Linked DNA regions of Homo sapiens. The protein of the gene in region 1 purifies or fractionates together with the protein of each later gene. This does not show direct contact. Each region holds a gene or a part of one and is shown on either strand. Other genes may lie near its edges. The genes, in order: CLSTN1 and KLC1.

Evidence for each region.
Region 2: the proteins of CLSTN1 (region 1) and KLC1 purify together in Homo sapiens (co-immunoprecipitation; 3 studies listed by BioGRID and IntAct, with this or other methods). This does not show direct contact.

What each region holds. Positions count from the first base shown.
Region 1 is NC_000001.11:9,750,723-9,758,822, forward strand, and holds part of CLSTN1 (calsyntenin-1 isoform 1 precursor), read right to left. Parts: intron 5,789-8,100; coding exon 5,759-5,788; intron 4,588-5,758; coding exon 4,392-4,587; intron 960-4,391; coding exon 751-959; intron 1-750. UniProt on the Homo sapiens protein: Postsynaptic adhesion molecule that binds to presynaptic neurexins to mediate both excitatory and inhibitory synapse formation.
Region 2 is NC_000014.9:103,631,456-103,639,555, reverse strand, and holds part of KLC1 (kinesin light chain 1), read right to left. Parts: intron 1-8,100. UniProt on the Homo sapiens protein: Kinesin is a microtubule-associated force-producing protein that may play a role in organelle transport. The light chain may function in coupling of cargo to the heavy chain or in the modulation of its ATPase activity.

The DNA.
Region 1 (8,100 bases):
AAAAAAAAAAAGATGTCACAGGAGATTCTAACTTAATGGAGAACATGGCCAGGCGCGGTGGCTCACACATGTAATCCCAGCACTTTGGGAGGCCAAGGTGGGCGGATCACCTGAGGTCAGGAGTTCAAGACCAGTCTGGCCAACATGGTGAAACCCTATCTCTACTAAAAATACAAACAACAACAACAAAAAATTAGCTGGGCGTGGTGGTGGGCACCTGTAATCCCAGCTACTCGAGAGGCTAAGGTAGGAGAATCACTTGAACCCGGGAGGCAGAGGTTGCAGTGAGCTGAGATCGCACCACTGTACTCCAGCCTGGGGAACAGAGTGAGAAACTGTCTCAAAAAAAAACCACAAAAACAAAAACAAAAAACTTAATGGAGAACAGAAAATGAGACAAACTAAATGTAAAGGTCAGTCTCATTCAGATGCATGTGGACTGAAAGTTAAGAAGATTAAAAAAACAAAGCCATGTCAGGTAGGAGGATTTTTATTTGATTTTGGTGGGAAAGCAAAAAAGAGGTGAGCCCCACAAGAGAACACAGGACTTACAGGTTCCAGAGAAGAAGTTGTCAGGGAACAAAGTAGAAACTTAAATGTTTTTACAATTAAAAGCAAACACACACCAGGTTAGGTCTCCAACTTGTGAGTTCCATGAAGTTCTGACGAAGCACAGAAGCTGGGGTGTAAAGTCAGTGGGGTTAGCAGGGACTGTCTACCTAGCTGAAAAGCCGGCTCCTCGATTCTTACCATCTTTGTCAACAGTAAAGGGCACGTCTGGAGTGATGATTTCGTAGCTGCAAATCTGGCTGAACTGAGGGGAGCAGTCGGCATCCACGGCCTCCACCCTCAAAATGCTGTCGTACTGCTTCCCCTCGATGACCGTGGCTTTGTAGGACTTCTCCTTGAACACGGGCGCGTACTCATTCACGTCGTTCACCTGAATATGAACAGTTGCTCTGGACAAAGGGAGGGAGAAAAATATTTTTCTGCTTGTTTTCAGTGTGAGAGAGAGACAGAGAGTGTGTATGTGTGTTTACCCAATTCTGCCCTACTTTAAAATTTCCTGTTTCTGATACCTTGTTTCATGAAATTCATATGATGAAGTCAAAAATTAAACAAGCTATTCACTGCTTTTCATTCAAGTGTGGAGATAACAGAAAGTTAAAAGAGGGATTTGGGTCGATTCTTCCATATCCTAAGAATAAAGCAAAAAACCAATCATCTAAAATAAAAGAGACTTGGGTGTTTTTTTTTGACAATATGGGACAAGACAGGCAGAAGGGAGATAAACAATACCAGACGTCTGTTTGCTCTCCAATTATAAAGTTGAAACATATTTTGTAGCAAAATCCAGAAAAAAAATAGAGCCAAGGGAAGAAGGGGTATGAAACAGAGAAAGCATGAAATGGTTTGATTCTGAGAGTTCAAACGAATTCTGTCCTACTTCTAGGGAATAGGCTGGAGTCCATGGCATCACCTGGTCCTGATTCAACAAATGGAAGAGTTCAGGAGAGGCAGGCCGTTGCCACCTGCCAATACCCCAGCTCAGTTATCAAGAAAATTAGGGTGTCATCAGACCTGGCTACAAATAAAAAAAACTGTAGGTTTCAAGGGCTAATGGTCAGGGCATGCTTCTGAATCAGTCAAGGACTTTGGTCAAAATCTGACCTTTTCAAGGGAAACAATAACATTACACTGTGGAAAAAGAGAAGAGACTCACTGGGGCACTGCACCTTCTGCTCACCATGAGCCTCCTCATCCCAGTGCCATCGGTCTGACCCTCACAATGGGTTATGTGACACCATCTCGCCCACATACCCTTCTTTAGTAGATGTGCTAAGTAGAAACTGAGACTCAGGGCCGGGTGTGGTGGCTCACACCTATCCCAGCACTTTGGGAGGCTGAGGCAGGAGGGTCACCAGAGGTCAGAGTTAAAGACCATCCTGGCCAACATGGTGAAACTCCGTCTCTACCAAAAATACAAAAATTAGCCAGGTGTGGTGGAGCGTGCCTGTAATCCCAGCTGCTTGGGAGGCTGAGGCACGAGAATCGCTTGAACCCTGGAGGTGGAGGTTGCAGTGAGCCGAGATTGTGCCACCGCACTCCAGCCTGGGTGACAGAGCGAGACTCTGCCTCAAAAAATAAGTAAATAAATAAATAAATAAAACAAAAGAAAAAGAAACAGACTCAACAAAATTAAATTTGCACAATGCCAAAGGGCTAGCAAGTGGTGGAGAAAAGACTAGAGCTCTAGAAAAGACTAGAGCTTACAATCTAATTGTAGAAGACACTGGACTTGAGAACACCAGCAGTCCCCAGCCTTTTTGGCACCAAGGACTGATTTCATGGAAGGCAATTTCTCCACAGATGGGGGTGGGAGGATGGTTTTGGGATGAAAATGCCCCACCTCAGATCATCAGGCAGTCGATTCTCATAAGGAGCGCACAACCTAGATCCCTGGCATGCTCAGTTCACAACAGGGTTCGCGCTCCTGTGAGAATCTGATACCGCTGCTGATGTGACAGGAGGTGGAGCTCGGGCAGAAATGCTCACTCGCTCACATGCTGTTGACCTCCTGCTGTGTGGCCTGGTTCCTAACAGGCCACGGACCAGTACTGGCCCACGTCCTGAGGTATGGCGACCCCTGTTCTATGTTGTCTTGTCCAAAGCCCTCTCTGCTACAACTGCAGTTCCTAACTGGCAGGAGGTGCAGCAACACACTCAGGATTGTGGCAGCGAGCCAGCCTACTTCCACCAGCAGTGACTAATTTTTTTTTTTTTTTGAGACGGAGTTTCATTCTTTTTGCCCAGGCTGGAGTGCAATGATGTGATCTTGGCTCAGTGCAACCTCCACCTCCCAGGTTCAAGTGATTCTCCTGCCTCAGCCTCCCGAGAAGCAGGGACTACAGGCGCGTGCCACCATGCCTGGTTAATTTTGTATTTTTAGTAGAGACAGGGTTTCTCCATGTTGGCCAGGCTGGTCATGAACTCCTGACCTCAGGTGAAAATCACCTCAGGTGATCTGCCTGCCTCGGCCTCCCAAAGTGCTGGGATTACAGGCGTGAGCCACCGTGCCTGGCCAATTTTTGTTGTTATTGTTTTTTAGGGACAGGGTCTCATTCTGACACTCAGACTGGAGTACAGTGGCACAATCATGGCTCACTGCAGCCTCAACCTCTCGGGCTCAAGCAATCCTCCCGCCTTAGCCTCCCAAGTAGCTGAGACCACAGGCATGTGCCACCATACCTGGCTGTTTATGTTTTGTAGAGATGGCATCTCCTACATTGTCTAGGCTGCTCTCAAACTCCTAGGCTCAAGCAATCTTCCCACCTCAGCCTCCCAAAGTGCTGGGATTATAGGTGTGAGCCACTGCACCTGGCCAACAATGATTAAGTTTATGCCCTTAGGAATTACAGCAAAAGATAAATATGACAACAAAATAACCTTCCTAAGGGAGAAGCAGACTTTTTCAATTTTTAATGTAGGGCCTTTACTTCTTTAATAGAGTATTTGGTGTGATAAAATTATTCACTCATTCATTTATTAAAAACCTAGGCCGGGTGTGGTGGCTCACGCCTGTAATCCTAGCACTTTGGGAGGCCGAGGCAGGTGAATGATGGGGTCAGGAGTTTGATACCAGCCTGGCCAACATGGTGAAACCCGTCTCTACTAAAAATACAAAAATTAGCCAGGCGTGGTGGCAGGCACCTGTAATCCCAGCTACTCGGGAGGCTGAGGCAGAAAAATCACTTGAAACCGGAAGGCGGAGGTTCCAATGAGCCAAGATCGTGCCACTACACTCCAGCTTGGGTGAAACAGCGAAACTCCATCTCAAAAACAAAACACAAAAAGGCCAGGTACGGCTCACGCCTATAATCCCAGCACTTTAGGAGGCCCAGGCAGGCGGATCACCTGAGGTCGGGAGTTTGAGACCAGCCTGACCAACATGGAGAATCCCCATCTCTACTAAAAATACAAAATTAGCTGAGCGTGGTGGCGCATGCCTGTAATCCCAGCTATGTGGGAGGTTGAGGCAGGAGAATCGCTTGAACCCAGGAGGCGGAGGTTGCGGCGAGCCAAGATCATGCCATTGCACTCCAGCCTGGGCAACAAGAGCAAAACTCCATCTCAAAAAACAAACAAAAACAACCCCAAAAAACCTAATATGCCTAATGTGAGCAAGGCTCTTGCTAGAAACTGTATACAAGGGTAGAGAGACATGATTCCTGCCCTCCAAGTGTTTACAATCTAATTGTAGACACTTGAGAACTATCTTCTGCCTATTTCAAAAACAGTCTTGGGGAGCAGGCAATAGTCACTACTATTTTCGTTCTGCGCACACACGTTTACTCGGTGGGTTATGTTCACTCTTTGTCCAGCTTACTTACTTATGAGACTTTTTCACGTTGGTGCCATCAGGTCCCTTCCCACAATCATAGGCCTGGATGGTGAATGAATAGTCTTTCTGCAGCTCACAGTCCAGTTTCTCTTTGGAGCGAATGACTCCCTCACCAGTGGATTTATCCACTACCACTGCATCAAAGGGGACATTCTGCCCGTGAATTTTAAATCCACAAATCTCACCTAGGGAGTCAAAGCAGAACAGGTAAGAATTCCTACCACATAGATCTTCTGCACCTTGCCCTCCTCCCCCCATCTCCACCCCCAAAGAAAATAAATGACAACAATTTGGCAGCCAGGGGTTTGGAGGGTCCGTGGACAAAGCAGGGGCACTGTGTTTTAAACATGGGGAAGTTCTCGGGCTTTAGTAAGATGAAGCAGATTCTGGCTTTCCAAGCAACTTGTTTACTTTGCATCCATTCATGCAGGAATACAAAAGAGAGAGAGAAGAAAATATAGACAGGCATTCCACAGGAGCACTTAGATAGCTCGAGGGTAAAAGGAGTCTCATTAGCACACAGCCAGGCCTGAGAACACCAGCGCTGCCCCAGCTCCTGGGAGGGCTGGCAGCCAGTTTGATTTGGACCAGAGAGAAGCTAAAACGCAGTTATGTGTTGAGAGAGGAGGAAGCGTGAGATATAGGATCAGCACCGTAATTACAGAAATTCTGTCAAAAAAAAAAATCAAAGGAAACAAGTCTTCCTGTGCAATGAGCCTGGCTAAAATTAGGGAATCAAAACAAACTACTCAATGAGAAAGGTAGAAATACCGACTCGTCAGGCATCCATTTCAACAGCTATTTTATCATCTACGATTCAGACACAGTTTCTATTATGGGAGGGACTGGCTAGACTTGCCTTTGTTTCGGACTTTATCCTATCAAACCTGAAAAAGACACCAGCCTGGGAACTTCTCTACATCTAAATTGGCTCACAACTTAATTAGGAGTTAAAAATCTATGTTTCCATTCTTGTCCATGGGAGAACAGTATAAATGTTTTGATGTCGATGTGAAACTCCACAAAATGTATTTCACATGAAAATAAGACTGCACTCCTTCCACAATTCCAACTAATAGAAAATTGTTATAAAGCAAATCTCTGAAGTTCTATTAAACAAAAATGTACAGTGTTATCCATACAGTTCAAATGGATGTCTGATTTCCAGATATTTCTAACCAAGGGTCTGGTTACATACAATTTCCATCAATATACTTTAAAATAGAAACAAAGTAGGAGAATAAATAAGGATAAAAGAGCATGACAGTTTCTCCTGTTTAAGGGCTGATTCCCAATTTTATAAACAAAGTTAGTGGGTTAATATTCATAAGAGGGGAAGAAAGAACCCTTTATCACCTTCTTTGGTGACTGTCACCTCAAAACTCTCTAAAGGGAGAAAAGATAAGCCCATGTCAGTAATACAGGAAAGAATGAAGATGGAATACACTAAGGAAAAAAGTCAAAGGTGCACATATTACACATTTCCACACCAAGCTCAGCGACCGGCTTCTACGATTGCTACAGCAAAACCTAATCTTCAGGAACAAAATGTCACTTTGAATCCAACTTACCATGAACTACTGCATAATTCTGAAGTTATTAATTTAGGGATGAAATACTCCTACATGAAGTGTCCTAACACCCTCAGGGGTCATTAGGATTTTTCTTTTTTTTGAGACAGAGTCTCGCTCTGTCACCCAGGCTGGAATGCAGTGGTGCTATCTCGGCTCACTGCAAGCTCCGCCTCCTGGGTTCACCATTCTCCTGCCTCAGCCTCCCGAGTAGCTGGGACTACAGGCGCCCGCCACCACGCCCGGATAATTTTTTGTATTTTTAGTAGAGACAGGGTATCACCATGTTAGCCAGGATGGTCTCGATCTCCTGACCTCGTGATCCGCCCACCTCGGCCTCCCAAAGTGCTGGGATTACAGGAGTGAGCCCCCGTGCCCGGCAGGATTTTTCTTTTAATGAACACTCTAGTGACAAACCATGAATAAGTACATCTATTTGTTATTTTGCAGTTTTCAGATGTTCATTTCCAACCTAAATTCTCTCAGCTAGATTCTGGTAACATTCAACTCATCAGTAGATTTAATGAAACAAAAATTTGGAGCAAAAGGTTTTTTTTTTTTTTTGAGATGGAGTCTTGCTCAGTCGCCCAGACTGGAGTGCAGTGGCGTGATCTCGGCTCACTGCAAGCTCCGCCTCCCTGGTTCACGCCATTCTCCTACCTCAGCCTCCCGAGTAGCTGGGACTACAGGCGCCCGCCACCACGCCCAGTTAATTTTTTGTATTTTTAGTAGAGACAGGGTTTCACCATGTTAGCCAGGATGGTCTCGATCTCCTGACCTCATGATCCACCCGCCTCGGCCTCCCAAAGTGCTGGGATTACAGGCGTGAGCCACCGCACCCAGCCGAACAAAAGGTTTTAACCCTTTGTTCTTGAACTGAAAAAAATGACAATATTTTTCTAATCCAAAGTACCCAACCAAGGCAACAAATATAAACCCCTCTGCTAATGGAACATCTGCTTAAATGTGAATAGAAACCAGATTCAAAACTAACTGTAGGGATGCTACAACAGTCACTGTTCTCATTACATGAAAGCTCTGTTCTACCAAGTCAATATATATCCTGCTTATAAACCCTTTACTATGGAGGAGTGGAAATGTGAAGAGATCAGGAATTTCGCTGCCCCTCAACACACTGGGCCCTCACTGGTGGCACCTTCTCTCCCCCAAAGGTAACACGACCTGAATTCCCTTGCTTTGCTAATAGTGCTACCATTTATTCTCCCTGAACAGTGTTGTTTCATTTTGCTTGGTTTTAAGGTTTTAAAAATGGTATCACATGGCATGCAGTTTTTTGTTTGTTTGTTTTGGGGGGGGGTGGGAACGGAGTTTCACTCTTGTTGCCCAGGATGGAGTAACAAGATCTCGGCTCACTGCAACCTCTGCCTCCCGGGTTCAAGCGATTCTCCTGCCTCAGCTTCCTCAGTAGCTGGGATTACAGGCATGCACCACCATGCCTGGCTAATTTTGTATTTTTAGTAGAGATGGGGTTTCTCTGTGTTGGTCAGGCTGGTCTCGAACTCCTGGCATCAGGTGATCCGCCCGCCTCGGCCTCCCAAAGTGCTGGGATTACAGGCGTGAGCCACTGCGCCCAGCCCACGTGCAGTTTTTATGACTTGCTTCTTTTTCTTTTTTTGAGACAGAGTCTCACTCTGTTGCCCAGGCTGGAGTACAGTGGTAGCATCTCAGCTCACTGCAACCTCCACTTTCTGGGTTCAAGCGATTCTCATGCCTCAGCCTCCCAAGCAGCTGGGATTACAGGCGCCTGCCACCAAGCCTCGCTAATTTTTGTATTTTTAGTAGAAATGGGATTTCACCATATTGGCCAGGCTGGTCTTGAACTCCTGATCTCAAGTGATCCGCCCGCCTCCGCCTCCCAAAGTACTGGGATTACAGGCGTGAGTCACCGCACCTGGCCATGACTTGCTTTTTCATGCAACTTTGTGTATCTAAGATTTATTCATCCTTGCTGGTATAGGTAGCTATAGTTTATTCATTTTCACTACTACCTAACAGTGAGAATCCACGGGTCAAAACATGTAAAGTGCTTAAAACATTGCCTGGCGGAAAGAGAGCACTTAACAAATGTTTGCTATTATTACAATCATTTTCCACTGTGTGAAAATG
Region 2 (8,100 bases), on another chromosome or scaffold:
TGGGAGGATTGTTTGAGCCTGGGAGCTCAAGGCTACAGTAAGCTTTGGCTGTACCACTATACTCCAGCCTAGGTGACACAGCGAAACCCTGTCACAAAAAAATAAATAAGTAAAAGACAAGAAAGAGCCAGGCGTGGTGGCTCACACCTGTAATCCCAACACTTTGGGAGGCTGAGGCAGGCGGATCACTTGAGGTCAGGAGTTCAAGACCAGCCTGGCCAACATGGTGAAACCCCATCTCTACTAAAAATATAAAAATTAGCTAGGCGTGGTGGCACATGCCTGTAGTTCCAGCTACTTGGGAGGCTGAGGCTGCAATGAGCCAAGATCATGCCACTGTACTCCAGCCTGGACAACAGAGCAAGACTCCATCTCAAAAAAAAGGAAAGAAGAATTCGCATCTGTCCAATATGTTAGTTTTGGGAGCATTTTCAAATGTGTAATATTTTATCGAAATAACAACAAAAAAAGTCTGCAGGTAGTTTGATGACCTATCATTATAATTCCCATTTACAGCTGAGGAAACTGGGATACATGAAGTGATTTAAGCTTATTCTACCAACAAGAAGAACACAATCCAAGGTCTCTTTGCCCCAAGTGTCCCTCTGCTTCAGGAACCCTACCACTCTGCATGCACGCACACACACACACACACCCTTGTGCTCACACACATACACCCTATGTTCATACATATGCACCACTGTGCTCACACACACCCCTATGTTCATACATACACACACCACTGTGCTCACGCACACACACCCCCACTGTGTTCATACATACACACCACTATGTTCACACACACCCACACACCCCACTGTGTTCATACATATACACCCAGACTCCAGCCTGGGTGACAGAGCGAGACTCTGACTCAAAAAAAAAAAAAAAAAAAAAAATTAATGAAATGAAAGCAAAGGCCAGAGAAGCAAAGGGCATCATCTTTGGTCACTTTACCTCCCCTGGTTTTATCATGTGAAATTCAGCCAGGTGGGGAAAGCTTACAGTGATGAAGAAAGTTAAGAAAAAAAAAAAACACCAAGCACTAAAAAGGGAAAAGGAATGTGTGGAATTAGATAGATGGTAGTTGCACAAAACAGAGAATACATTAAAAATCACTGCACTGCACGCTTTAAAATGGGGCATTTGATGTGATGTGACTTACATTTCAATTTTCTAAAAGAGAAAAAGAATGTGGTAGAAAAAGCAATAGGTCTGGGTGCACAGAATGAAGGACAGCCAAGAAAGAAATGTCAATTACTCTCAGTTCTCAAGTGTTAAATAAAGTTCCTATGAATACAGACGAGGGTAGCACATTAAGGAAAAATGGGATGGAGGGAAGAAAACAGAGGTTTTTTCCTTGCAAAGGTTTATAAGGGATGTTTTACCGAGAGATGGGCAACAGGAAACCCTGGCAGTGCTGGCCAGATCAGCAGGGTCAGGTCCCATCCCCATATACAGGCGCAGAAGCCCCAAACAATACCAGCAAAGAGGGTCCTGAGGTGAAGGGACCAGCCTACAGGAACAGTCCACGTCATATTCAGGGAAATAAATAGTATCTTGGTGGCCCAGCATAGTGGCTTACGTCTGTAATCCCAGCACTTTGGGAGGCCAAGGAGAGCAGATCATTTGAGCCCAGAAGTTAAAGACTAGCCAGGGCAATGCCATGAAACCCTGTCTCTACAAAAAACAAGCCGGTCATGGTGGTGCGCACATGTAGTCCCAGCTACTTCAGGGGCTGAGGTGGGACGATCACTTGAACACGAGGCTGCACTGAGCCACGACTGTGACACTGCACTCCAACCTAGGCAACAGAGCAAGATCCTGTCTCAAAAATTAAATAAATACATAAATATTTTTTTAAAAAGAAAACATTAACAACCAGACAAAACAAATGCATCTATTTGGCCTTTGGGTGACTTATTTATAGATATGCTTTCAGAATTAAGGAAAGCGGATGTTGCTTAGGCAACAACAAAAAATAAAAGATAAAAATAAACCCTGCGAAAATTTCTTTTTTTTTTTTGAAACAGAGTCTCACTCTGTTGCCCAGGCTGGAATGCAGTGTCGCAATCTCGACTCACTGCAACCTCTGCCTCCCGGGATCAAGCGATTCTTCTGCCTCAGCCTCCCAAGTAGCTGGGACTACAGGTGCACACCACCACGCCTGGCGAATTTTTGTAATTTTAGTAGAGACGGGGTTTCACCATACTGGCCAGGGTAGTCTCAAACTCCTGACTTCATGATCCACCCGCCTCGGCCTCCGAAAGTGCTGGGATTATAGGTGTGAGCCACCGCGCCCAGCCGAAAATTTCTTTAATAAAACTTGCCAGAGCATGGTTAAGAAAAATTAAAAGTATTGATTTATTAAAAGGCACTACCAAAAAATAAAGTTAAGCCATAGATTAGGAAAAAATATTTGCGACACATATATATCTGGCAAACGGCTTGTATAAAAAATACGTCAGCCTGGGCAATAGAGCAAGAGCAAGACTCCATCTGAAAAAAAAAAAACATGTAAGGAACTGCTGGGCGTGGTGGCTCACGCCTGTTAATACCAGCACTTTGGGAGGCCAAGACGGGCGGATCACGAGGTCAGGAGATCGAGACCATCCTGGCTAACATGGTGAAACCCATATCTAATAAAAATACAACAAAAAAAAAAATTAGCTGGGCGTGGTGGCAGGCGCCTGTAGTCCCAGCTACTCCAGAGGCTGAGGCAGGGGAATGGCGTGAACCCGGGAGGCAGAGCTTGCAGTGAGCCGAGATCGCGCCACTGCACTCAAGCCTGGGCAACAGAGGAGACTCCATCTCAAAAATAAATAAATAAATAAATATGTAAGGAACTTAAAAATACAAACAATCCAATTTTTTAAATGGGCAAAAGTCTTGAACAGACACTTTACAAATCCAGGCATACAAAGACCGACAAGCATGTAAGCGCTCACCATTATGAGTCATCAGTGAAATGCACATTAAAACTAACAAGATGCCACTATACCCCGCTAGAATGGCTCAGATGAAAAAGACAGGCAAGGCCAGGCACGGTGGCTCACGCCTGTAATCCCAACACTTTGGGAGGCCGATGGGGGGTGATCACCTGAGGTCAGGAGTTCAAGACCAGCCTGACCAACATGGAGAAACCCATCTCTACTAAAAATACAAAATTAGCCCGGCATGGTGGCCCATGACTGTAATCCCAGATACTCAGGAAATTAAAGCAGGAGAATTGTTTGAACTCGGGAGGCAGAGGTTGCAGTGAGCTGAGATCGTGCCACTGCACTCCAGCCTGGGCAACAAGAGTGAAACTCCATCTCAAAAAAAATAAAAAATAAAGTATTGAAAGTAGTCAAAATCATAGAAACAAAGTAGAAAAGATGGTTACCGGGGGAGGGCGAGGGAGGAGGAGATATCAGTATTTGGGGGCTACAGTCTCAGCGCTGCCAGATGAAAGAGTTCCAGAAATGTGGAACAACGATGTGCATATCCTTAACACTACTGAATTGTGAACTTTTAAATGGTTAAAATGGTACATCTTTGAAAAAAATTGAAGTGGCGCGAGGTTTCCCCAAGAAAAAGTAATGATAGGATTAAACAGCATTATCATGATTCACTTGAAGCTGCAGCTTTAAGTACTGCAAGGTGATTCAAAGCTTATACCGCGAAGCAAAAAAACTGAGTTAGAATCTTGACTTCACAGCTGTGTAACTTTGGTTTCTGAAACTTCCCCTCTCTCACCCTCAAATTCCTCAACAGTAGAATCTCAGTAACAGTACCTATTTTACTTTTTTTTTTTCTTTTTGAGATGGGAGTCTCACTCTGTCGCCCAGGCTGGAGTGCCGTGGCTCGATCTGGCTCACTGCAACCTCCGCCTCCCGGGTTCAAGTGATTCTCCTACCTCAGCTTCCCAAATACCCGGGACTACAGAAGCATACTACCACACGCGGCTAATTTTATATTTTTAGTAGAGACAAGGTTTCACCCATGTTGGCCAGGCTGGTCTCAAACTCCTGACCTCAGGTGATCCGCCCTCCTCAGCCTCCCAAAGTGCTGGGATTACAGACATTAGCCACCAAGCACAGCCTTTTATTTTTTTAAGAAACAAGGTCTCACTATATTGCCCAAGCTAGTTTGAACTCCTGGGCTCAACTGATTCTCCCACCTCAGCCTTCGGAGTAACTGAAACTACAGACACATATGACATCCGCAGGGTTTACAGTACCTATTTTCTCTGGAACAGTGCAAACATCACTCTGATCAGTTTTAGTAGCAGCATAGTGAACTTCAGAGAAGCCTGAACATAAATTTATGTTATGCAACTGAAGTCAGGGAACAATCTATGGTTTAAATGAAGGTAACAGATATTTTAGAACCAAGGAAGTAACTCAGTTCACGTATGCACGTAACTCAGCTTAACATGTTTGCTCCATATCCGTTGCTTTAAGTTCAGATAGCACTTTTCAAATTCAAAAAGCATATATGCAAACTGCTTTCATCTGCCTCCAAAAATTAGTTAAAACTAAAAAAAAATCATAATTCATTTCTGATCCATGAGTATACTAACTAGGAGGCTACAGAGTACAACGCCACAAAGGATGCCTTGGGAGAACGAATGAAGATCATCTCGAAATAGCCTCCATCCTTAAGAGGTAATATTCTCAGGAAACAGGCAACAGGCCGGGTGCAGTGGCTCAAACCTGTAATCCCGACACTTTGGGAGGCCACGGCAGGCAGATGGCTTGAGCCCAGGAATTCGAGACCAGCCTGGGAAACACAGTGAGACCCCCGTCTCTACATAAACTATATTTAAAAAAAAAAAAGTTAAAGGTCATTAGTAACCTCCTAGAAGCAAAATCCATAGAGACTTCTCAGTCCAACCCATCACTGACTTCTTAGCCAATTTGCTACTGATCTCCTCCCTCCTCTTCTCTTGGTTTCCCAGGACCCTCTCCTCTTAGACCCACTCCCCATCTCTACCAGATGGACATCACACCCGACTGGCTCAACGATATGATGCAGTCTCTGGAATCTTTACCTCCAGCCTCAGCCTCTGTCTTGAGCTCCAAAGATGTATCTCTAACTGCCCACTAGTCCACTTGGCTGCCCCACAAGCACTTCAGATTTAACATGTCCAAAAACAAACTCATAATCTCATCCTTCTCCCATTTTCCCTCCTTGGATGAGTGTCACCAGCCAGTGAATCACCCAAATTAGAGATGAGGATCATTCTAGATGCATTCCTTCAACAAACATTTACTAAGTTCCTATTACACGCCAAGCACCGACACTGAATACAAGAGACAAAACTCCCCATCCTTGTGGAGGTTATGAATGTTAAGTGGAGACAAACAATAAAAATTTTAAAATGATTAAAATAATACAGTATTGGCCAGGCACGGTGGCTCAGGCCTGTAATCCCAGCACTTTGGGAGGCTGAGGCAGGTGGATCACTTAAGGTCAAGAGTTCGAGACCAGCCTGGCCAACATGGTGAAATCCTGTCTCTACTAAAAATACAAAAATTAGCTAGGTGTGGTGGCACATGCCTGTAGTCCCAACTACTTGGGAGGCTGAGGCAGGAGAATGGCTTGAACCCGGGAGGCAGAGGATGCAGTGAGCTGAGATCATGCCACTGCACTCCATCCTGGGTGACAGAGCGAGACTCCGTCTCAAAAAGTAATAATAAAAAAAAAATAATAATAATACAGCATTTAAGATAGTGAGGTGTGCTAAGGAGAAAAATCAGGGCAGAGGCTAAGGAGTATGTGGGGAAGTGAAGAAATGCTAATCACTACAAGAATGGGTTTGGTTCAGAACTCCAGATGCACCTGGAAGTGCTTGAGTAGGGCCAGAGCAGGAAGATGAAAAGAGACAGGGTGGGGTGCTCAGAGGACACTGACAAAAGCTTTAACAGAGGAGTGACTCAGGTTTTCACAGGATCATTCTGGGGAGTCCTCCCTGCAGCTCCTCATTTACCCCAATCCAGTCAGCCCCAAATCAGCTCCACTATAACCCTTACAGCCCAGCCCCTGCCCCCACCTAGCTTCTCTGTTCCTTCTGTCACTGCCCTAATCCTGAGGCTTGCCGAGTTGGGGTTAATGGCTTCCTAATTAACCTCATCCCAGTTCACAGCACCTGCCCCACCACTGCCTATGCTCTTTCTAAAGTGGCAACTGGCTCCTCAGAATCTTCCAACCCTCCGGCCAGGCGCGGTGGCTCACGCCTGTAATCCCAGCACTTTGAGAGGCCAAGGCGGGCGGATCACGAGGTCAGGAGATGGAGACCATCCTGGCTAACGTGGTGAAACCCCGACTCTACTAAAAATACAAAAAATTAGCCGGATGTGGTGGCACGCACCTGTAGTCCCAGCTACTCGGGAGGCTGAGGCAGGAGAATCACTTGAACCTGGGAGGTAGAGGCTGCAGTGAGCAGAGGTCGTGCCACTGCGTTCCAGCCTGGGTGACAGAGCAAGACTCCATCTCAAAAAAAAAAAAAATCTTCCAACCCTCCTTTGTAAACCTCAGAATGAAAGCAGACTTCTAAGAAGTCATTCAAGGCCTTTCCTAACCTCGTCTTTCCACACTCACTCCCATGTCCCCTTCCCAACATGCCCCTTTACAGCAGCACAACCTCAGGATTTATTTCCTCCAAGCAGGAACCCCAATCCCAATCCCACCCCTGACCCCCTGACACTGGCTGATTGGTACTTTTCTTTTGTGAAGAATCGCCTCCTCAGTGCACTCCACAGCCTTTAACCTGGTCTGTGGTACCTGCCCATGCCAGCCTGTGAGCTCCTAGAGGACAGAGTTTTTTTGTTTTTTGGTTTTATTTTTTTTGAGGCAGAGTTTTGCTCTTGTTGCCCAGGCTGGAGTGCAATGGCGTGATCTCGGCTCACTGCAACCTCTGCCTCCCCAGTTCAAGCGATTCTCCAGCCTCAGCCTTCTGAGTAGCTGCGATTAGAGGCACCCGCCACCACACCCGGTTTTGGTTTTTTTTGTATTTTTAGTAGAGACAGGGTTTCACCATGTTGTCCAGGCGGGTCTCAAACTCCTGACCTCAGGTGATCGGTCCATCTTGGCCTCCCAAAGTGCTGGGATTACAGGAGTGAGCCACTGCACGGCTGACAGCGGCTCTTTTTGTTTGTTTTGAGACGGAGTCTGGCTGGACTGCAGTGACGTGATCTCGGCTCACTACAACCTCCACTTCCCGGTTCAAGCGATTCTCCTTCCTCAGCCTCATGAGTAGCTGGAATTACAGGTGTGCACCACCACACCTGGCTAATTTTTGTATTTTTGGTAGGGACGGGGTTTCACCATGTTGGCCAGGCTGGTCTTAAACTCCTGACCTCAGGTGATCCACCTGCCTCGGCCTCCCAAAGAGCTAGGGGCGATCTGCAGCCTCAGCCTCCCAAAGAGTTAAGATTACAGGCATGACCACGCCCGGCCAACAGTGGCTCTTTTATCAAGGTATCGCTGACTACTCAGCACAGTACCTGCCATTCAGTTGGTTCCCAACAGACATTTAAGACCAGTATTTGCAATCTTAATGTGCTTGTCACTTTTATTCTATGCCCTGAAATTTGACACTTAAATCTTCCCAAATACTCTCGTCTTGAGTATATTACTGATCATTTCTTTGCTACATAAAATACTGGTTTCAGCCCAGGTGCAATGGCTCACACCTGTAACCCTAGCACTTTGGGAGGCTGAGGCGGGTGGATCGCCTGAGGTCAGCAGTTTGAGACCAGCCTGGCCAACATGGTGAAGCCCCGTCTCTACTAAAAATACAAAAAATCAGCCTGGTGTGGTAGTGGGCACCTGTAATCCCAGCTACTAGGGAGGCTGAGGCAGGAGAATCACTGGAACCTGGGAGGCGGAGGTTGCAGTGAGCGGGGATCACACCACTGCACTCTAGCCTGAGCCACACAGTGAGACTCATCTCTAAATAAATAAAAATAAAATACTGGTTTCTAACATTCCACTTATCTACAAAGAATGTTTTCAGGTGATACTAATCATACATTTCACTCAACTTTTGATTTTTCTATCCTAGGTTTCTTTTTATACAAGTATGTTTTAAGATAATTTATGGCCCTATACAGA